Homo sapiens: one gene and its partners. The protein of the gene in region 2 purifies or fractionates together with the protein of the main gene of each other region. This does not show direct contact. Each region holds a gene or a part of one and is shown on either strand. Other genes may lie near its edges. The genes, in order: NGLY1, SERPINA4, FDFT1 and GNPTG.

Region 1 (5,129 bases), on a different chromosome or scaffold from region 2:
AGGCTGGAGTGCGGTGATGCAATCTCAGCTTACCACAACCTTCGCCTCCTGGATTCAAGCGATTCTCCTGCCTCAGCCTCCTGAGTAGCTGGGATTAAAGGCATACGACAGCACGCCTGGCTAATTTTGTATTTTTAGTAGAGATGGGATTTCTCCATGTTGGTCAGGTTGGTCTCGAACTCTTGACCTCAGGCGATCCGCCCGCCTTGGCCTCCCAAAGTATTGGGATTACAGGCGTGAGCCGCCGTGCCCAGCCTGGAAAGTTTTAAGTAGGGAAAAATATTTTTGAAGATTATTCTAGCTTGCTGTAAAGAGAATTCCTGGAGGTGGTGGGATGGGGACAAGGGATGAAGCAGGGAGACCGGTTAGAAAGCTTATTACATTAGTCTAAATAAGAAATGGTAGTGGTTTGTATAAAGTCCATGAAGGCAGGGTTTTTTGTCATTTCTGTTCCCTGTGTTGCTAGCTCCTGGAATAATGCTGGTGCATTACAGATGTTAGGTACTCAATAAAGATTTGTTGAATTAAGTACTGATGGTGGAGATGGAGAGAAGTAGATGGATCCAGGATTTCTTTTTGTGACAGAATCAACAGGACTTACTGGTGATTTAGATGTAAGATATAAGGGAAAGGAAGGAATCGGGGACTTACCTATGTTTTGGTTTAAGCAACTAATTGGATGGGAGTATCATTAATTGAGATAGAGAAGCCTTGGAGAGTAGCAGGTTTTAGGGGAGAAACTAACACCTGTCTTTGGACAATTGTGACCAATTTGCTGTTAAATATTCAAGTAGAGAAGCCAAGTAAGCAGTTGGCTATATGAGTTTACAACCCCAAAGGAGAGATTAGGCAGGGGATATAAATTATGGTGTCATCTGATTATAGATGATACAAAGGTATCCGAACATAAAGAATTTAAAATTCCTTGTTCAAGGAAATGCCAATTTTCAAGATTCAAATTGGTTGGGAAAATTGAGTAAATGACAACGGAAGACTCTACCCATTTCTCATGTCGAAGTGTCACATATTCGATAGAATTAGATTTGTCTTTCATTCAGCAAATATTTGAGTGCCAAGTAGGGTAGCCAGCCATTCCAGTTTGCTCAGTACTGTCCTGGTTTTAGCAATGAAAGTCCCACATCCCAGAAAACCCCTCGGTCTCAGGCAAACCAGTGTTGGTCACTGCAGTGCCAAATAACAGGCCACACTGAGACTTGCAGAAGTATTTGATGCAAATGGAGTCACAGTCTCAGAAAAGATTAACAGGTTTTGATATGACTAATTTATACTTAAAGTTTCTGTTCGGCTTTAGACATCACACCTCAGGACTTGAACTCTACCACCAAAAAGAAAGTTGGTGGACTTTTTAAAGAATAATTATATGAATACATAATAGTTGTACATTATGGGGTACAGGTGATATTTTGATGCTAGCATACAAATGTGTAATGAACATATCTGAGTAATTGGAACATCCATGATCTCAAACATTTATCATCTCTTTGTGTTAGAAACATTCAAAATTCTGTCTTCTAGCTATTTTGAAATATACAATGAATTGTTTTTAACCGTAGTCACCGTATTGTGCTATAGAACATGAGAAATTATTCCTCCTATTTAACTGTAATTTTGTGCCCATTAACCAATCTCTTTCTATTGCCCAGTCCCTTCTATCCCTCCAAGCCTTTGGTAACTGCCATTCCACTCTTCTTTATTTTTTTAAATTTTTATTTAATTTTGTAATATCTTTTTACAATCACTCTTTTCTTCTATGGGATCAATTGTTTTAGCTCCCACATATGAGTGAGAACATGTGTTATTTGTCTTTCTGAATTCTGGCTTATTTTACTTAACATAATGTCCCTCCATTTCCATCCATGATGATGCAAATGACAGGATTTTGTTCTTTTTTATGGTGGAATAATATTCCGTTGTGTATAGATACCACATATTCTTTATCCATTCATCTATTGATGGACAATTAGGTTAATTCCATATCTTGGCCATTGTGAATAGTGCTGCAGTAAACATAGGAATGCAGATACCTCTTCAATATGCTGATTTTGGAAAATGGTGGATAGGAGACAGGACTAACTTGCAGCTCCCAATTGGACTGACAGAACAGTGCCTGGAAACTCACATCGTGAACTTTTGCTCTGAGAAATACTAGAGGAACATACCAGGAAAACCAAAAGAATTCACAGACCCTTTGAAAAAAGCAGCTTGCTGCTGCAAATTCCATGAGACAGAGGAAAACCTGTGAGTGCCCGAAGTGTGACGGGGAAAGTCCACTGGGGAACCTGAAAATCCAGATCACGGGAGAAGGGTTTAACCTTACCTAGAGCTGAAATTAATTTAGAGAGCTGAGTGAAATATAAAAGTAGAACAAGCAGCGAGAAGAGCCTGCAGGCACTCCTGGCCACCAAGGAAGCCATTTCTGACTTTATCTCACAGGGGTCCTTGGGGAGGGCTGCCAGTGGAATTGGGGAAAGACCACAGGGAGAATGAAACTTGCAGCTGAACACGAATTTTCCTGGACTGGGGTGTGTAGGGGAGGTGGCAAATGGGAAATGCAGATACTGCAGATACAAGCACAGAAGCCAAGGCAGACGGAGAGGGGTGAAGCCTGAAAACCCTGATTGCTTTCTCAGTGGGGAGACTTGTAGCCTGGGGCAAAATCTCAACCCTGCGTACACTGCCTGGATATAAACATGGTGCTATTGGTGGAGCATGGTGGGAGTGAGACTGGCCCTTCTGGCTGTGTGGGAGCTGGGTATGGCCTGTTATTGCTGGCTTTCCCCCACTTCCCTGGTGACCTGTATGATGCAGCAGAGATAGCTGTAATCCCCCTGGAAACATAACTCCATTGGCCTGAGAACCACACCCCCATCCGCCACAGTGGCCACAACAAGCCCAACCCAAAGAGAGTCTGCTCTCAGACATGCCTAACCCTGCCTTCACCTGATGGTCTTTCTGAGAGAAAAGACATAATCTCTTGGGAACTCTATGGCCCTGCCCACTGCCTGAGAAACCCAAATACTTATGCAGGCAACCCTAGGGCAAGCTTACATCTTCTTGATACTACTGCAGCTGATGCTGTCTTGAAAGCATCACCTTCTGGCTGGGGGCCAACCAACTGAAACCATTACAGCAACTCATTAAAGAACAACTCTGCCCCAAGAAAAGAGAATACAACAGCTAATTCCACCACCTGTAACATCCTGGCTAACCAGAGGTCTTGAGTCCAATCGCATGACAGCTTTACTACCAGCACACCTGGAATTCGAGAAAACCAACACACTAAACAAAACTGCAACCAAGGTCCCACACAGAGTCCACTTCACTCCCCTGCCACCTCCATCAGAGTAGGTACTGGTATCTATGGCTGAGACTTGAAGACAGATCACATCACAGGACTCTTTGCAGACACTCTCTAATACCAGTTCAGAGCCCAGTAGCTCTACTGGTTTGCTAGACCCAGAAGAGCAATAACAATCACTGCAGTCCAGCTCTCAGGAAGCCCCATTCCTAGAGGAAGGGAAGAGCACCACATCAAGGGAGCACCCCATGGGGCCAAAGAATCTGAACAGCAGCCCTTGAGCCCCTGATCCTTCCTCTGACATAGTCTATACCTAAATGAGGAGGAACCAGAAAAACAATTCTGGTAATATGACAAAACAGGGTTCTTTAACATCCCCAAAAGATCACACTAGCATAGTAGCAATGGATCCAAACCAAGAAGAAATCTCTGAATTGCCAGAAAAAGAATTCAGAAGGTCAATTATTAGGTTACTTAAGGAGACACCAGAGAACTTAAAGAAATTTAAAGAGTGATACAGGATATGGATGAAAAAAAATCTCCAGAGAAATAAATAGTATAAATAAAAAACAATTACAACTTCTGGAAGTGAAGAACACACCTAGGGAAATGCAGAATGCATCGGAAAGTTTCAACAATGGAATTGAACAAGTAGAAGAGAACTTCAGAGCTCAAAGATGAGGCTTTCGTATTAACCCAATCCAACAAAGACAAAAAAGAATTTTAAAAATGATCAAAGCCCCAAGGAAGTTTGGGATTATGTTAAATGACCAAACCCAAGAATAATTAGTGTTCCAGAGGAAGAAAATACATCTAAAAGTTTGGAAGACATATTTGAGGGAATAATTGAGGAAAACTTCTCTGGCCTTCCTAGAGATCTACATATCCAAATATAAGAAGCTCAAAGAACACCTGGGAAATTCATCTCAAAAAGATCATCACCTAGGCACATAGTCCTCAGGTTATCTAAAGTCAAGACAAAGGAAATAATCTTACAAGCTCTTAGGCAAAAGCATCAGATAACCTAAAAAGGAACACCTATCAGATTAACAGCAGATTTCTCAGTAGAAGCCCTACAAGCTAGAAGGGATTGGGGTCCTATCTTTAGCCTCTTTAAACAAAATAATTATCAGCTAAGAATTTTGCATCCAGCAAAACTAAGCTTCATAAATGAAGGAAAGATAGTCTTTCAGACAAACAAATGCCAAGAGAATTTGCCACTACCAAGCTAGCACTACAAGAACTGCTAAAAAGGAGCTCTAAATATTGAAATAAAACCTCGAAATACACCAAATTATAACCTCCTTAAAGCATAAATCTCACAGAACCTATAAAACAATAAATAATGAAAAAAAAACAAAGTATTCACACAACAACTAGCATGATCACTAGAATAGTACCTCACATCTCAGTACTAACATTGAATGTCAGTGGCCTAAATGCTGCACAGAATGTCAGAATGAGTAAGAATTTACCAACCATGTATTCTCTGTCTCTAAGAGACTCACTTAATACATAAAGACTAACATAAACTTAAGGTAAAGGGGTGAAAAAAGATATTCCATGCAAATGAAAACCAAAAGCCAGCAGGAGTAACTATTCTTAGACAAAACAGACTTCAAAGCAACAGTTAAAAAAAGACAAAGGGGGGCATTATTTAATGATAAAAGGGCTAGTCCAACAGGAAAACATTACAGTCCTAAATATGTATGCACCTAACACTGGAGCTCCCAAATTTATAAAACAATTGCTACTAGACCTAAGAAATGAGATAGACAACAACACAATAATAGTGGAGACTTCAATACTC
Region 2 (4,165 bases):
ACACAACGTTTTTACTTACATTTTTGTAAAAATATATTTAACCAGTCAACAAATTAGTGGGTTGGAGGCGGTGGTGTGGATTTAGCATATACCAATGATCTGACTCTCACCTTTGAAGTAAATGTAATTCACCAGCACCATCAAGACGTCCTTCTTGAGCTCACTGACCAAATCCACAATCTTCCCTCGAGTTTCCTTCTTGACGTGGTCGTTGATAAGCTGGATTGTGCCCACAGTGTCGTAGAAGTTGGTGTGGAAGAGTTTAGCCTCATAGACGGCCATGGTGTCATTCAGGAATTTTGCAAGGAACTTCAGGTTGTGGCTCAGGAACAGAGCACTGCCCACGCGTGTTTCCAGCCCATGGCCGGGGAGGTTGAGAGTGTGCAGGAGGTGCTGGAAGCCCCTATGGACATCGGACTCAGACAGCTCGGTGAGGTTGAAGCCCAGGCCCTCAAGGATCTGGCTGCGGCTGTGTGAGCAGGCCCCCAGGGAAAGCATGGCGTAGGCCGCCGAGATGCTCAGCGGGGAGAAAAAGATGTTCTTCCCCGGGGTCTCCGAAGCGATCAGGTAGTAGAAGCGGAAGGCAAAGTCAGCATTGGCAGGGGCTATCTTGAGGCTGGGGGAGCCCTCACCTGTCTCCAGAATCTGCTGGTGGGAGCTGTTACTGCAACTCTCACCATCATGCTCAACGTGCAGCTGGCCATGAGAAAGGGCCAGTAGTCCAACCAGCAGGAGGAGCAGGTAGTCGATAAGATGCATCCTCTGCACTCTCAGGCCTATGGGAGGGAAGAGAATGCCCAGGAAATTCCCCCAGAAGAACACCTGGCCCTACTGAGAAGGCTGGCAGTGGGCCAGCACCCGGAGATCGTGAGTGACACCCTCAACTCCTGCAGATGGGCTTGTGAAAGGCAATGTAACACCCACCACCTTCCACATGTATGGTGACAGCAACACTATTGGATGGCAATGTTTTAGACTTACAAGGCACACTCCTTGTGTCCATCATGTCATTGTGTTTCCCACCTGTGTGAGCTCTGCACAGCACTAGACTCCATTCTCACCCAACAGAGCAGGAAATGAAGACTCCCAAAGTGACTCACCCAAGTCACCTACCTAGCACATATCCCAGCCAGAACCCACATCCCCAGACTCAGGTGCTGCTTCTCCCACACTTGTCTTTCAGATGAGTTGATTTCATTAGTGCAGTGATTTTGCATGGAGGATGGCTATCCTCAGAGTTTATTTTAGGGTCTGTTCCACAAACATCTGTGGAGTGCTTTATATGGTTTACAAACCACTTTCAGCCATTTAGTTTGACCCTCCCACCCCTGTAGAGGTCAGTAGAACTGGTCTTTGTATTGTTACCCCGTACAGACAAGGACATGGATGTTTAATAAGTGACCTGCCCAAAGTTGTGGGGATAGAATTGGTACCCGTTTCATAATGAACATCTGTCCAAGAAAGGATACTCCAGTTTCTCCCCCAAATCTGCTCCTGCCCCATCAAATGGTCCCACCAGTATCCGGTTGTCAGGCCAAAAAGCTTCTAGGCTTCTATCCACCCAAAATCCATTTAATCCACTTCCATGACCTGCAGGGTTGGGTTTTTTTTGTTTGTTTGGTTGTTTGTTTGTTTGTTTGAGACAGGGTCTCACTCTGTCACCCAAGCTGGAGTGCAGTGGTGTAATCATGGCTCACTGCAGCCTTGACTTCCTGAGCTCAGGTGATCCTCCCACTTCACCCTTCCAAGTAGCTGGAACTACAGGCATGCACCCTTCCAAGTAGCTGGAACTACAGGCATGCACAGCCACACCCAGCTAATTTTTTATAGAGTTGGGGTCTCACCATGCTGCCCAAGCTGGTCTCCAACTCCTAGACTCTCCTGTAGGTTCTTCAGCCTCTCGCCCCCTCTTTTGCTATGATCCTCAACCAGGGCTCAGAAAACTTTTTCTGCAAAGCGCCAGATAGTAATATCTGTGGTTTTGCAGACCACACAGTCTCTGCTGCCACTACCCAACTCTGCTGTGGCAGCTGGAAACAGCCACAGACCGGACATGCATGAAGAGGCGTGGCTGTGTTTCAGTGAAACTTCACTTACGGACACTGAAATGTGAATTTCATATTATTTTCCTGTGTCACAAAATGTTGTTCTTCTATTGATTTTTCATAGCTTTATATATTTATCTTTTATACTTATCACTTATATTTTATATTTATATTTTACATCTTGCATTCTTAGCTCATGGGCGGTGGGCCGGATTTGACCTACAAGCTGTGGTTTGTTGACCCCTGACCTAGACCCTTGCAGAAAGCTTCCTAGTCTTTCTGCTCTCTGTTCTCCACTCAGCAGTTGGAGGGATCATTTAGAAACATACATAGGACCGCATCACTCACAGACACACCTCCCCTCCGGCATGAGCTCCCCAAGATCACCTGGATTGGCAGCCAGAAGACCTTGGCCCTCAGTCAGTGCCGCCCTGTACCAGCTGTGTGTCCCTGGGGGAGGCTTTTCTGGGTCTCCGGGCATAGTCACCCACCAGTGCCCATGGACCCTAAGTCGGGGCCTTTCTAGCCTGAGTATTTCTCACCTCTAGCAAGAGTGACAAAGTGTCCCAGCTTGCCTGGGACTTTCCTGGTTTTAGCACTGAAAATATATCCCAGAAGAATTATCAGTCTTGGGCAAAGTGGAACAGTTGGTCACCCTCCCTCTAGAGTCTCTCGTCTCCATTGTCTCAGGGGGTTACTCACGGCACAGTCTGTCCTGGAGTGGACCCCCTGGGTGGCTGTCTCAGCTCTGTCTTATCAAGCCCAGGAGGACTGGTCAAACCAGGCCTTCTCAGTACCACCCACTCTCTCCCGACCAGGTAATTATTAACAAACAGGCTACGGGTGCAGCATTGCCTCAACAAGGAAAACTCACCAGAAGTTGGTTCACCCCCTCCCAAGAAGACACCCCACTTCCCACCTGGGGAACCCCAAGAGGGTTCACTTCTTCATGTTTGTGCAGTGCATGGAGGTTCGCCTGGCCCTTGCTGCTCCCCGAGGGCCCGGGGAACCACTTGGAAAATCTGGTCTCCAACCAGCCCCTCACTAGCTGTGTGAAGTTGAGCTCATTTACTCCCTCTCTGAGCTTCAGTCGCCCACCTCCCTCCTACAACATGAGGGGCTGGATCAGACAGGGGGCAGCAAGCTCCAGCGCCGCCTTCCTAGATCAGGTAAGGAAGACTCCATGGTGCCACGGTGGGGAATGGTGGGGATGTGTGGAAGTGAGAGAGCCAGCTCTCTACAGGCCAGGCAAGACCCACCTGTGGGCAGGGCCTCACAGCAGGGCCTCCAGTTTGCAATCCTGGACTCTGTGATTTCTGAGGATAGAGTCCACTGAGATCTCATAGGTCAGACCATAAGGAGAGTACATCCCAGGGCAAGGGTGGCATGGGGTGGGACCAGGAACCTCCTTGGGCCAGGTATTCAATTTGCATTTTTCTTCTTTAACCATGGAATTGAACTTGTTCTCTCCCCAGTAATCAGTGAACCCCTGCACCCTTGCACCCTTGCACCCTCCTGGGGCAGCCATTTCTCAAGCTATGTGGGGAAGGACTGCAGGGAGCAATGTGGCCCTGGGTGCCCTGACTGAGATGACCTTGACCATTCAGGCATCCTCTAGCAGACTTTCTGGATGTGTTTCCAAGTCGTTGGGCCTTAAGGTAAGTGAAATATACACCACTGAGCAGCACAGTGGGCTGGGAGCCCTGAGCGATGTAGACATGGGGATGGCAGAGCAGGCACAAGCACAGCCCTGGAGCCAGCTGGCCTGAGGTCCAAAATGGGTCAACACCAGGACAAGAGAGGAAGCTAGCAGGTCAGGCAAAGTGAGAGCTACTGTCTCAGTGGATTCTCGCTTTCCCTCACTCATCTCTCTCTTTCCCTTGCCTATACACTCTAGGTATACTAAGCTTGGCCCATTTTACACATGAGAAAATGTAAGCCCGGAGACATTGTTAGCTCAGATTCCAGAGTCAGGGTCTGCTCCGTGGCCACTGAACATGAAGCCCATATTCCTTCCCAGCATCTGCTGCTTCTCCACTTGGACAGACTTTTCCTGCCACCGGAATAGCAGCTGCTGCTTTGCTTACTGCTGTACCACGCGCTAGAGCAGAATGTGGTGC
Region 3 (5,129 bases), on a different chromosome or scaffold from region 2:
TTTCTGTGGGGCAGTTGGCCTTTTTCTTAACTTTTAGAAGTTTTTTTTAATATTAGGAATATGAACCCTGTATCTGCTCTATGAATTGCAAATATTGTTTCCCTCTGTCACTTTTTTTTTTTCTTGAGACAGTTTCATTCTGCCACCGAGGCTGGAGTGCAGTGGTGTGATTACAACTCAATCCAACCTTGAGCTCCTGCGCTCAAGGGATCCTTGTGCCTTAGCCTCCCGAATACCTAGGAATACAGGTGCATGCCAACATGCCCAGTTAATCTTTTAAATTTAGTTTTATTTTTTCTACTTTCTTTAATTTTTATTTTTGCTCTTTCAGCAGAATCATTTTCTAACAATTTTTTATAGAGATGGTATCTTGCTGTGTTGCTCAGGCTGGTCTTGAACTCCTGGCCTCAGCACTGGGATTATAAGTATGAGACACCACACTTAGCCTCACCCGTCTTTTTAAAACTTTAAAGTACTTGGCTGCAGGAAACACTTTTATGGAAAGCAAAAGGTAAATGCTGGAATAAATTCAGGGAACAGTCATAAAATTTTCTACTTTCCTTCTGAACAAAATCAGTATCAAAAGCTTTCTGTTCCCTGTCCATGTTTTAATTAAAGATCGACCCTGTCCCTTATTACAGACACCTGGAGTTTTTGTCTACCTGCCATCCCTTTCCCCTTCCTGCTGCAGAATTCTTTCTTTGGGGGAAATCCATTCTGTGTGTACTGTGTAGACGTAATCCAGGCGAGGCCAGAGAACTCAGCTGTGTAGCAACAGTAACTGATTCAGGGCTGAGCAGAAGAACCAAGCCCTTCCTCTTCTTTTGAGAGGGAGTCTCACTCTGTCGCCCAGGCTGGAGTGCAGTGGCACAATCTGAGCTCACCGCAATCTCTGCTTCCTGGGTTCAAGCGATTCTCCTGCCTCAGCCTCCCAGGTAGCTGGGATTACAAGCCCTTGCCACCACGCCCGGCTAATTTTTGTATTTTTTAGTAAACACGGGGTTTCACGATGTTGGCCAGGCTGGTCTCGAACTCCTGGCCTCAGGTGATCCGCCCACCTTGGCCTCTCAAACTGTTGGGATTACAGGCATGAGCCACTGCGCCAGGCCGAACAAAGCCATTCCTAAGAACTTTTTGTTAAGCTAGTGCACATGGGTTGTTACCATATCCACCACTTGGAGAAAGACCGTCTGAAAGAAATCAAGGACAGCAAGGCTTGAATATACTGATTACGTGGTGTGAATCCTGGGAGTCAGCCAGTCTACCTGAAGCAAACTCATGTCAAGCTATCCTATTTTCCACATCCCCTTATGCTGCCTGGGGGAGGCCTGACTTGTTTTTCTGTCACCCGCAACCACAAGAGTTAAAGGATTTTTCAGAGAATGTCTAAAGTTATTTTCCCCCAAAATACCCTGAATCTGTTACCTCTTGAGGCCAGAACTCTCTTCCTCCTTGCTGGTCTTCCAGATAGTCACGGATGATGTTTGTTTTCTGCAAAAACAGGCCCATAGAGTTGGCACGTTCTGTATCTTCACCAACTAAGGGGTCTTCAAACTCTGAGGCTGAGAAAAGACGGGAAAGGCCAATTCCGACCAGCCCAGCAACATAGTGGCAGTACTGTAAGAGACGATTTTTAAAGCACTTTAATAATGGAATTTTTACTGAAATGGACACACTAGAGATCATTAGCTACAAAAAAGCAGGTTCAAAAGAGAATGGGTAAGAATGCATTTTGATTTTAAAATACAAATATACATACCAGGATTTAAAAAACATTCAAGAAGGATGTGCTCAAAACATTTCATAGCAGTCTCTGGCTGACGGGAATTTGATGTTTTTATTTTTCACTTGTATTTTCCAAATTTCTACAATACACATGTACTGCTACTATAATAAAAGGCTACTGAAAAAAACTAGTAAACATTTTTTTATTTTTATTTTTTATTTTTTTTTTGAGATGGAGTCTCATATATTTGCCCACGTTAGACTCAAACTACTGGACCCAAGCAATCTTTCTGCCTCAGCTTCCCGAACAGCTGGGATTGTAGGCAAATACCACCGTGTCTAGCTTTACAATAACTTTTTTTTTTTTTTTTTTTTTGAGATCAAGTCTCACTTTGTCCCCTGGGCTGGAGTGCACTGGCACAATCTCAACTCACTGCAACCTCTGCCTCTTGGGTTCAAGTGATTCTCCTGCCTCAGCTTCCTGAGTAGCTGGAATTAAAGCACCCACCACCACATCCAGCTAATTTTTTATTTTTAGTAGAGACGGGGTTTCACCATGTTGGCCACGCTGGTCTCGAACTCCTGACCTCAACTGATCTGCCAGCCTTGGCCTCCCAAAGTGCTGGGATTACCAGCCCAAGACACCGTGCCCGCCCTAGCTTTACAATAAACTTTTTGATACATAAAACTATGAGAGAAGGCAACGATGAAAGATGGAATATTCTGGTAACAGGAACTAGGACAATACCAACTATGGTTTAATCTTTTTTTGACCAATCTGATAACATGTCAAGATCCGCAGGCCCTCAAAATCATCATTATATGAAAGAACAAATAACTATTTTATGTTCTTGACACGGTTTTAAGAACTCTGCACATTCAGCCGGGCACGATGGCTCATGCCTGTAATCCCAGCACTTTGGGAAGCTGAGACGGGCGGATCACGAGATCAGGAGATCAAGACCATCCTGGCTAAGACGGTGAAACCCCGTCTCTACTAAAAATACAAAAAAATTAGCTGGCCTGGTGGCGGGTGCCTGTAGTCCCAGCTACTCAGAAGGCTAAGGCAGGAGAATGGCGTGAACCCAGGAGGTGGAGCTTGCAGGGAGCCGAGATCGCGCCACTGCACTCCAGCCTGGGCGACAGAGTGAGACTCCGTCTCAAAACAACAACAACAGAAAAAAAGAACTCTGCACATTCAATCCTCACAAACATTGTATCAGGTACATAGCAGTATGATCTCCATTTCAGATGAGGAAACTGAGGCACAAAGAAGTCGATTTAACTTGCCCAACATTGCCCATGTGAGAAAAAAAAAAAATTAGCCAGGCACAGTGACACAGGCCAGTGGTCCCAGTTACTCAGGGGGCTGAAGTAGGAGGCTCGCTTGAACCCAGGAAGGTTCAAGGGGCTGCCGTGTCTGTGGCAGGGGCTAAGAGTTCAAAACTAGGTAGTATGACTTAAGTGTCAGGCTTTAACAACTTTGCTAAAACTTCCCCTTTTCTTTTTAGTTTTTCTTTTAGAGACAACGTAACTTCCCCTCTCTCAACAGAGATTTCAGTAAATGCAACTCTTAATTGCCAAATACTTTTTTTTTCCGCGACAGCAATTTGTCAAAAGCTGTCCTCCTCTGAAAAGGGTATCCTAAGACAACTTAATGCAATATCCACATACAATAATTGTCTATTAGTTAACTTAAGAAGCAAAAGTAAAGAAGGTAAGCTCTGGAGTGTCATTAGGAAGGGTAAAAGTTAGGAAATGACCGAAGTTCACGCCTGTAATCCCGGAATTTTGGGAGGCTGTGGAGAGGGGACTGCTTGAGCCCAAGAGTTTTAGACCAGCCTGGCCAACAAAGCAAGACCTCATCTCTGTAAAAAATTTTAAAAGGCTGAGTGTAGTGGCTCACACCTGGGAGGCTAAGGCAGGTGAATCGCTTGAGCCCAGGAGCTCAAGACCAGCCTAGGCAACACGATGAAACCCTGTCTCTACCAAAAAATTACAAAAATTAGCCTGGTGTAGTGGTGTGGACCTATAGTCCCAGCTAATGGGGAGGCTGAGGTGAGAGGACTGCTTGAGCACAGGAGGTGAAGGCTGCAGTGAGCCTTGATCATGCCACTACACTCCAGCCTGGGTGACAGAGCAATACCCTGTCTCAAAAATAATAAAAATTAAAATAAATTAGCCAGGCATGGTGGCAACGTGCCTGTGGTCCCAGTTACTCAGGAGGCTGAGGGCAAGGAAGATTGCTTGAGCCCAGAAGGTCAAGGCTGCCTTGTCTGTGCCACTGCATTCCAGTCTGGGTGACAGAGTGAGACCCTGTCTCAAAAAAAAAAAGTCGTCTCTGACTGAAAGTAATACAAAGCCAGAGACTAATCAGGGGGAAGAATGCACAGGTGAAGAGAAAGCACTTGAAATTTGTTCTGGGACAAAAGTAACATGAAAAGAGTGAAATCTTGCTGAAATTAGGTAGACAGAAATTGGCTTTGGACAGCTATACAAAATCTTCAAAAGAATTACTAGAAATTTAAAAAAAAATTAGTATATCTATAGTACTATCCAAAAATATATTTGAAGATAATAGTTCTTTTGGTAGAAATACTCCTAAAATGGAGACTTATATAATTCATCTTCCCCCAAAGTAGAAGAAAAAAAATAACTCCTTGAAATAATTGGCTGGTCATGCCTGTAATCCCAACATTTGAGAGGCCAGAGTGGGAGGACTGTTTGATGCCAGGAGTTTGAGACTAGCCTGGGCAACATGGCAAAACCCTCTCTCTACAAAAAATGTACAAAAATGAGCCTGGTATGGTGTCATGCACTGTAGTTACAGCTACTCGGTAGGCTGAGGTGGGAGGATCACCTGAGCCCAGGAGGTTGAGGCTGCGGGGAGCCGTGATCACACCACTACACACCAGCCTGGATAACAGCAAGACCCTGTCTCAAAAAAAATTTTTTTTAATTCAATTTTATCTGATCAAAACTTCTATTCAACAACCTAAAATTAAGTTTCCTGAATAAATCTGCACAACAGAAAATGAGTTACTATCATAACCAGTGCTGGTTCTTGGCCAGAAGTTTTAACTTCAACTTTATTTTCTTTCAGATGGTGTCTTGCTCTGTCACCCACGTTGGAGTGCAGTGGCACAATCATGGCTCACTGCAACCTTCAACTCTTGGGCTCAAGCAATCCTCCCACACCTCAGCCTCCAGAGTAGCTGGGACCACAGGCACATGCCACCAATTCCCTGCTCATTTTTTAATTTTTTGAAAGACGGGGTCTCGCTATGTTGCTTAGGCTTGTGTCTAACTCCTGGGCTCAAATGATCCTCCCACCTCAGCCTCCCAAAGTGCTGAGATTACAGGTAAACCATAGTACCCGGCTAACTTCACCTTAAATGCAGAAA
Region 4 (5,129 bases), on a different chromosome or scaffold from region 2:
TGATGGCGCACCTGGGGTTAGGCTCACTTCCCTGCGGCTCAGAAGCCATGGGATGGTGGCTTCCCAGGGCCTGAAGTGCTGGAGTCGGGCCACCACCTATCCCAAGAAGCTGGGGAGGAGGCAGGCCACTGTGTAACAGCGCAGTTCCCGACCGAACCCCTTCCAGTAGGAGAGAGGCAGCCTTGGCTAATGGGACCACGTCTTTTTGGAGGTGAGAGTCCTGGAAAGAAAACAGAATATGCTGGTCGTGGTGGTGCGTGCATGTTGCTCGGGAGCCTGAGGTGTGACGATCGCTTGAGGTCAGGAGTTCGAGACCAGCCTGGCCAACATGGTGAAACCCCGTCTCTACTAAAAAAAACCACAAAAACAAAAGTTAGCCGGGCATAGTGGTATCCTCCTGTAATCCCAGCTGCTTGGGAGGCCGAGGCTGGAGAATTGCTTGAATCCAGGAGGCGGAGGCTGCGGTGAGCTGAGATCATGCCCCTGCACTCCAGCCTGGGTGACAGAGCAAGACTTCGTCTCAAAAAAAAAAAAAAAAAAAAAAAACCCATAAAAATTTAGAAAAGAATACCTCTTCTAGTTTTCCCACCCCCATCCCCACATCAGGGCCAGTCAGGTTCACATGTGCATTTGGTTCATTATGTGTCTTTAGTGTTTTAATTTGGAACAGTTCTCTTCCCACCTTTGGATGTAAGTGGCACATTTGTTTCCCAGTTTCCTGATCTTTTTGTTTTGTTGATGGTGTTTTTCTCCAGACCATTTTTTCCTGCGCCTGTGGGGTCAGGCGTGGATAGTCCCCCGCGTCTGTAGGGCTGGGCGTGGATACTCCCCCGCGTCTGTAGGGCCGGGCGTGGATTGTCTCCCACGTCTGTGGGGTGGGGCCGGGCGTGGAAAGTCCCCCGCGTCTGTGGGGTGGGGCCTGGATACTCCCCCGCATCTGCGGGGTGGGGCGTGGATCGTCTCCCGCATGTGCGGGGTCGGGTGTGGATGGTCTGCCGCGTCTGCGGGGTCGGGTGTGGATGGTCTCCCGCGTCTGCGGGGTCGGGTGTGGATGGTCTCCCGCCTCTGCGGGGTCGGGTGTGGATGGTCTCCCGCGTCTGTGGGGTCGGGTGTGGATCGTCTCCCGCGTCTGTGGGGTCGGGTGTGGATCCTCTCCTGCGTCTGTGGGGTCGGGTGTGGATATTCTACTTGTTTTTTCTGTCTTTGATGTAGCGCTCCTTCAACATCAACGTGTGAGGCGGATTGTGTGCAGTGGGTAGGAGAGTGTGGTCTGTGGAATGAGCTGAGCAGAAAGATAATCAGGCTGAGAAACTCAGGGGCGTGGTGATTGTGGCCTAGGGCTCAGAAGGTCCCCGCAGAAGAGTGTCTGCCAAGGAGAAGGAAGGGGTGGGCTTGCCAGGGCCGAGGCTGGTGGGGCTGGGCTGGGCAGTGGGCAGCTCCATGGCCTCCACCAGATGAGTCGGGAGCCTCGTCCCTTGACAGCAGGAGGAGCAGAGGTTGGTAGGTCTGTGATTTGGAGACAGTGTCCCGCTGTGGCATGGAGAGGGAATGGGGCACGGTCAGTGTGGTGGTCCTGCCAGCGCCCAGCAGAGTCCAGCATAGCCCAGCACACTGTCCAGGAGGGAGCTCTGCCTCGGTGGCGGTGGGAGGGAGCGGCCAGCTGGGCAGGACTCTGGGGCCTTGGCAGGGTCCTGGATCTGGGGAGGGGGCGGGGGAGGAGTAGAGTGGCCCCGGGATCCTGGCTAGAGAAGCCATGGCAAGTGCGGCTCCCAGCATGTGAGTTGCAGGGGTCAGGCTGGGAGCTTGCTTTCGGCTGGGGCCGGGCTGGGTCTGCCAGGCAGTCCCTGGTGCTTGGAGAGGGTCACGGTGGGCACAGGACTCACCAGGGGGTGCGTGAGGCCGGAGGGTGAGGGTGAGGTCCCCGGTGAAGTTCTTGGTGGCGTGTGGGGGTTGTGGAGGTTGGGAGGGTACTGGGACCAGGTGTGGGGCCGGGCCAGGGAGCAGCGTGGGAGGGAGGACCACCCTTGAGAAGGGATTGTCACCAAGAGACGCAGCCCTAGGGGGAGTGCTGCCCACCGAAGCCTGACCGGGGCAGAGGGGAAACGGAGTCCAGGCTCAGCCAAGCTGATGGGCCTTGAGCTGTGGCCTCGGGTGCAGGGACAGCTGGCAGTAAGGCCACCTGGGCCCGCGGGAGCCAAGGGCACCGGCGAGTGTCCTGGCCATGCAGGCCGTGAACACGGAGCCTGCAGGGGACGTGCGGGTGAAGCAGGAGCAGAGGAGAAGCCTCCCGGCAGGGGTGGTGGCATTTGGGGGTGGTGGTATTTGGGGGTAGAGACTCCCGCTCAGGTATGGCTGTGTCTGGCCCAAGAGGCGTGGAGGGGCCAGCCCCCACCTGTCTCAGGAGGACAGGCTGCTGAAACCTGAGGGCCAGGCGGAGGGGAGGGGCCGTGGCCGGGGTTCTGGTGTGGGCCAGCAGCAGAGGACCTGGGGTACTGGGCACTGCCAGTTGGGGGCTTGTGGTACCATCCCCTGCGGGAGGCTGCACCTCAGCCAGTAGGAGTCCACTGAAGCTGTGGACAGCACCCAGGCAGAGGCCTCCTCCCAGCTGGGGAGCCAGGCCAGGCCCCGCTGCCCTCACACAGTCCTGTTTAGACGGATGGCCCTGCAGGTGCAGAGCTAAGCCCGGCGCCCACGCCCCTCCTGGGGTGTCTCCAAGCAGTGTCTGCCTGGGGCAAGCCTGGGAACGTGAGTTCCCAGGACACAGGAGCTTGACCAGCCACCCTCCCAGCGGGAGTGTGAGAGCGGGAATCTGCGGGCGGGGGTCTGCGGGCGGGAGTGTGCGGGCGAGAGTGTGCGGGCGGGGGTCTGCGGGCGGGAGTGTGCGGGTGGCGGTCTGCGGGCAGGAGTCTGAGTGGCAGATGGGTGAGGGACACATCAGGGTCTCTGGGATGGCTCCAAAGGCTTCCCTATGTGCCTGTTGGGCAGGGCCCTAGGGCCAGACTGGAGGGACCAAGCCCAAGCACCCCAGGCTGTGGGACAGCAGGTGTGACAGGGCTGAGGTAGAGCCCCCAGCGGTCAGGCTGGGAGGACAGTGGGTGAGCCTGGGAGTAGGGGCCACCCAGATGGTATTTGACAAGGAAGGACCAGGACCTTTCTATATCCACAGCCCCTGTCCCCTGAGCAGGGCAGCCTGGCCATCTTGGTCTCCATCTGTCTTGGGAGGGGACAGCCCCAGGGGTGAGTGGAATGTCAGGGAACAGAAGGCCAGGCCGGGCCAGCACCCCAGAGGTCTCAGTGGCATTAGCCTCTGCCCTCCGGGGGCGGGGGCCAGGCTGAGGGTGGCCCCAGTGTGGCATCTGGCTCCTGGGCTGGCCAGATTCCCAGGGAACAGTCACCCAGCACCTCGTGTGTATTTCGACTTTATTATTATTATTATTATTATTATTAGAGCCGAGTGTCGCTGTGTCGCCCAGGCTGGAGTGCTGTGTCGCCCAGGCTGGAGTGCAGTGGCGCGATCTCGGCTCAGTGCCAGCTCCGCCTCCCGGGTTCACGCCATTCTCCTGCCTCAGCCTCCTGAGTAGCTGGGACTACAGGCGCCCGCCACCATGCCCGGCTAATTTTTTGTGTTTTTAACAGAGACGGGGTTTCACCGTGTTAGCCAGGACGGTCTCGATCTCCTGACCTCGTGATCTGCCCGCCTCGGCCTCCCACAGTGCTGGGATGACAGTCATGAGCCACCGCGCCTGGCCTCGACTTTATTATTAATACGGTAAAACTACAGAGAGTTTGAAACATCAGTCTGGGGCGTCCTCCTCTAACCAGTGCACTTGCTGCTGCAGCGCAGGCCCTTCAGGGGACGGGGATGGGGGCCAGTCCCCTCCCTGCCTCCACGGCCCAAGCCCCAGCCTTCCCCACAGTCCTGGAGGATGGCCCGTGGCTGACAGTCTCGGTGGGCGCTGTGTTAAGGTGGCGTCCCCAGCCAGGTCCCGACTCCCCAGCTTAAAGAACAGGGTGGCTGCTGTGGCTTGACTCACGAGTTGCCACTGGCCTTGATGTGTACACGCCCTTGCTCTAGCACTGCCTGGGGCTGGCCTGGCTGGAGGGTAGGGACGCTGCACGCCTTCCCTCTTCCCCCAGGCGCTGGTGACACTGCCCTGCAACCGTCAGCACCATCATCTCCACAACTTGCTCTGTCCCCTTCAAACCCTGACTCCCAGCTGCCCCGCTCCCCCAGCCCCGGCACCCACCATTCTGCTGTCTCTGAACTTGGCTATTCATAGACGTCACATAGGTGACTCATAACTGTGTGCGACCTTTTGTGTCTGACCAACTCCTCTTGGCACAGTGTCCCCAAGGTCCCCCAGGCTGGAGGCTCTCAGTGCTTCCTTTTTATATGGCTGAGGACTGTTCCACTGCAAGGACAGACCACGTTGTTGTTTACCCGTCATCTGTCCATGGACACTGGAGTGGCTTCCACCCTCTGCCTGGGAATAGGCTGCTGTGAACTTGGGTGTAAATATTTGAGTCTCTGCTTCCAATTTCTGAGAGTAGCTTTGCTGGATCTTATTAGAATTCCATGTTTAGCTTTTTGAGGAACCACCAAACTGTTTGCATAGTGGCTGCACCGTTTCCCATTCCAGCCAGCATTGCACGAGGGGTCCAGTTTCTCCACATTTTCACCAACACTGTTTTTTGCTAACAGCCATCCTAGTGGGTGTGAAGCGGTACCTTAGGGTTGTTTTAATTTGCATTTCCCTAATGATCAGTCATGTGGGATCTTTTCAGTTGCTTATGGTGTTTGTCCTTTTTTTTTTTTGAGATGGAGTCTCACTCTGTGGCCCAGACTGGAGTACAGTGGCGCCATCTTGGCTCACTGCAAGCTCTGCCTCCCAGGCTCAGGCGATTCTCCTGCCTCAGCCTCTCAAGTAGCTGGGATTACAGGCGTGAGCCACCACACCTGGCTCATTTTTATTTAGTAGAGACGGGGTTTCACCATGTTGGCCAGGCTGGTCTCAAACTCCTGACCTCATGATCCGCCTGCCTCGGCCTCCCGAAGTGCTGGGATTCCCGGCTTCTCTGCCCATTTTTAACTTGAGTTTATTGTTGGGCTGTAGTTCTGTGTTCTGGAT

What was found.
Region 1: the proteins of SERPINA4 (region 2) and NGLY1 purify together in Homo sapiens (co-immunoprecipitation; one large-scale study listed by IntAct). This does not show direct contact.
Region 3: the proteins of SERPINA4 (region 2) and FDFT1 purify together in Homo sapiens (affinity purification with mass spectrometry, with the first as the bait; one large-scale study listed by BioGRID). This does not show direct contact.
Region 4: the proteins of SERPINA4 (region 2) and GNPTG purify together in Homo sapiens (co-immunoprecipitation; one large-scale study listed by IntAct). This does not show direct contact.

What each region holds. Positions count from the first base shown.
Region 1 is NC_000003.12:25,772,241-25,777,369, reverse strand, and holds part of NGLY1 (peptide-N(4)-(N-acetyl-beta-glucosaminyl)asparagine amidase), read left to right. Parts: intron 1-5,129. UniProt on the Homo sapiens protein: Specifically deglycosylates the denatured form of N-linked glycoproteins in the cytoplasm and assists their proteasome-mediated degradation. Cleaves the beta-aspartyl-glucosamine (GlcNAc) of the glycan and the amide side chain of Asn, converting Asn to Asp.
Region 2 is NC_000014.9:94,560,077-94,564,241, reverse strand, and holds the start of SERPINA4 (kallistatin isoform 2 precursor), read right to left. Parts: upstream 2,801-4,165; 5' UTR 2,748-2,800; exon of another isoform or gene 2,527-2,747; coding exon of another isoform or gene 2,433-2,526; intron 777-2,432; coding exon of another isoform or gene 760-776; coding exon 111-759; intron 1-110. UniProt on the Homo sapiens protein: Inhibits human amidolytic and kininogenase activities of tissue kallikrein.
Region 3 is NC_000008.11:11,822,512-11,827,640, reverse strand, and holds part of FDFT1 (squalene synthase), read right to left. Parts: intron 1,618-5,129; coding exon 1,426-1,617; intron 1-1,425. UniProt on the Homo sapiens protein: Catalyzes the condensation of 2 farnesyl pyrophosphate (FPP) moieties to form squalene. Proceeds in two distinct steps.
Region 4 is NC_000016.10:1,354,064-1,359,192, forward strand, and holds part of GNPTG (N-acetylglucosamine-1-phosphotransferase subunit gamma precursor), read left to right. Parts: intron 1-5,129. UniProt on the Homo sapiens protein: Non-catalytic subunit of the N-acetylglucosamine-1-phosphotransferase complex, an enzyme that catalyzes the formation of mannose 6-phosphate (M6P) markers on high mannose type oligosaccharides in the Golgi apparatus.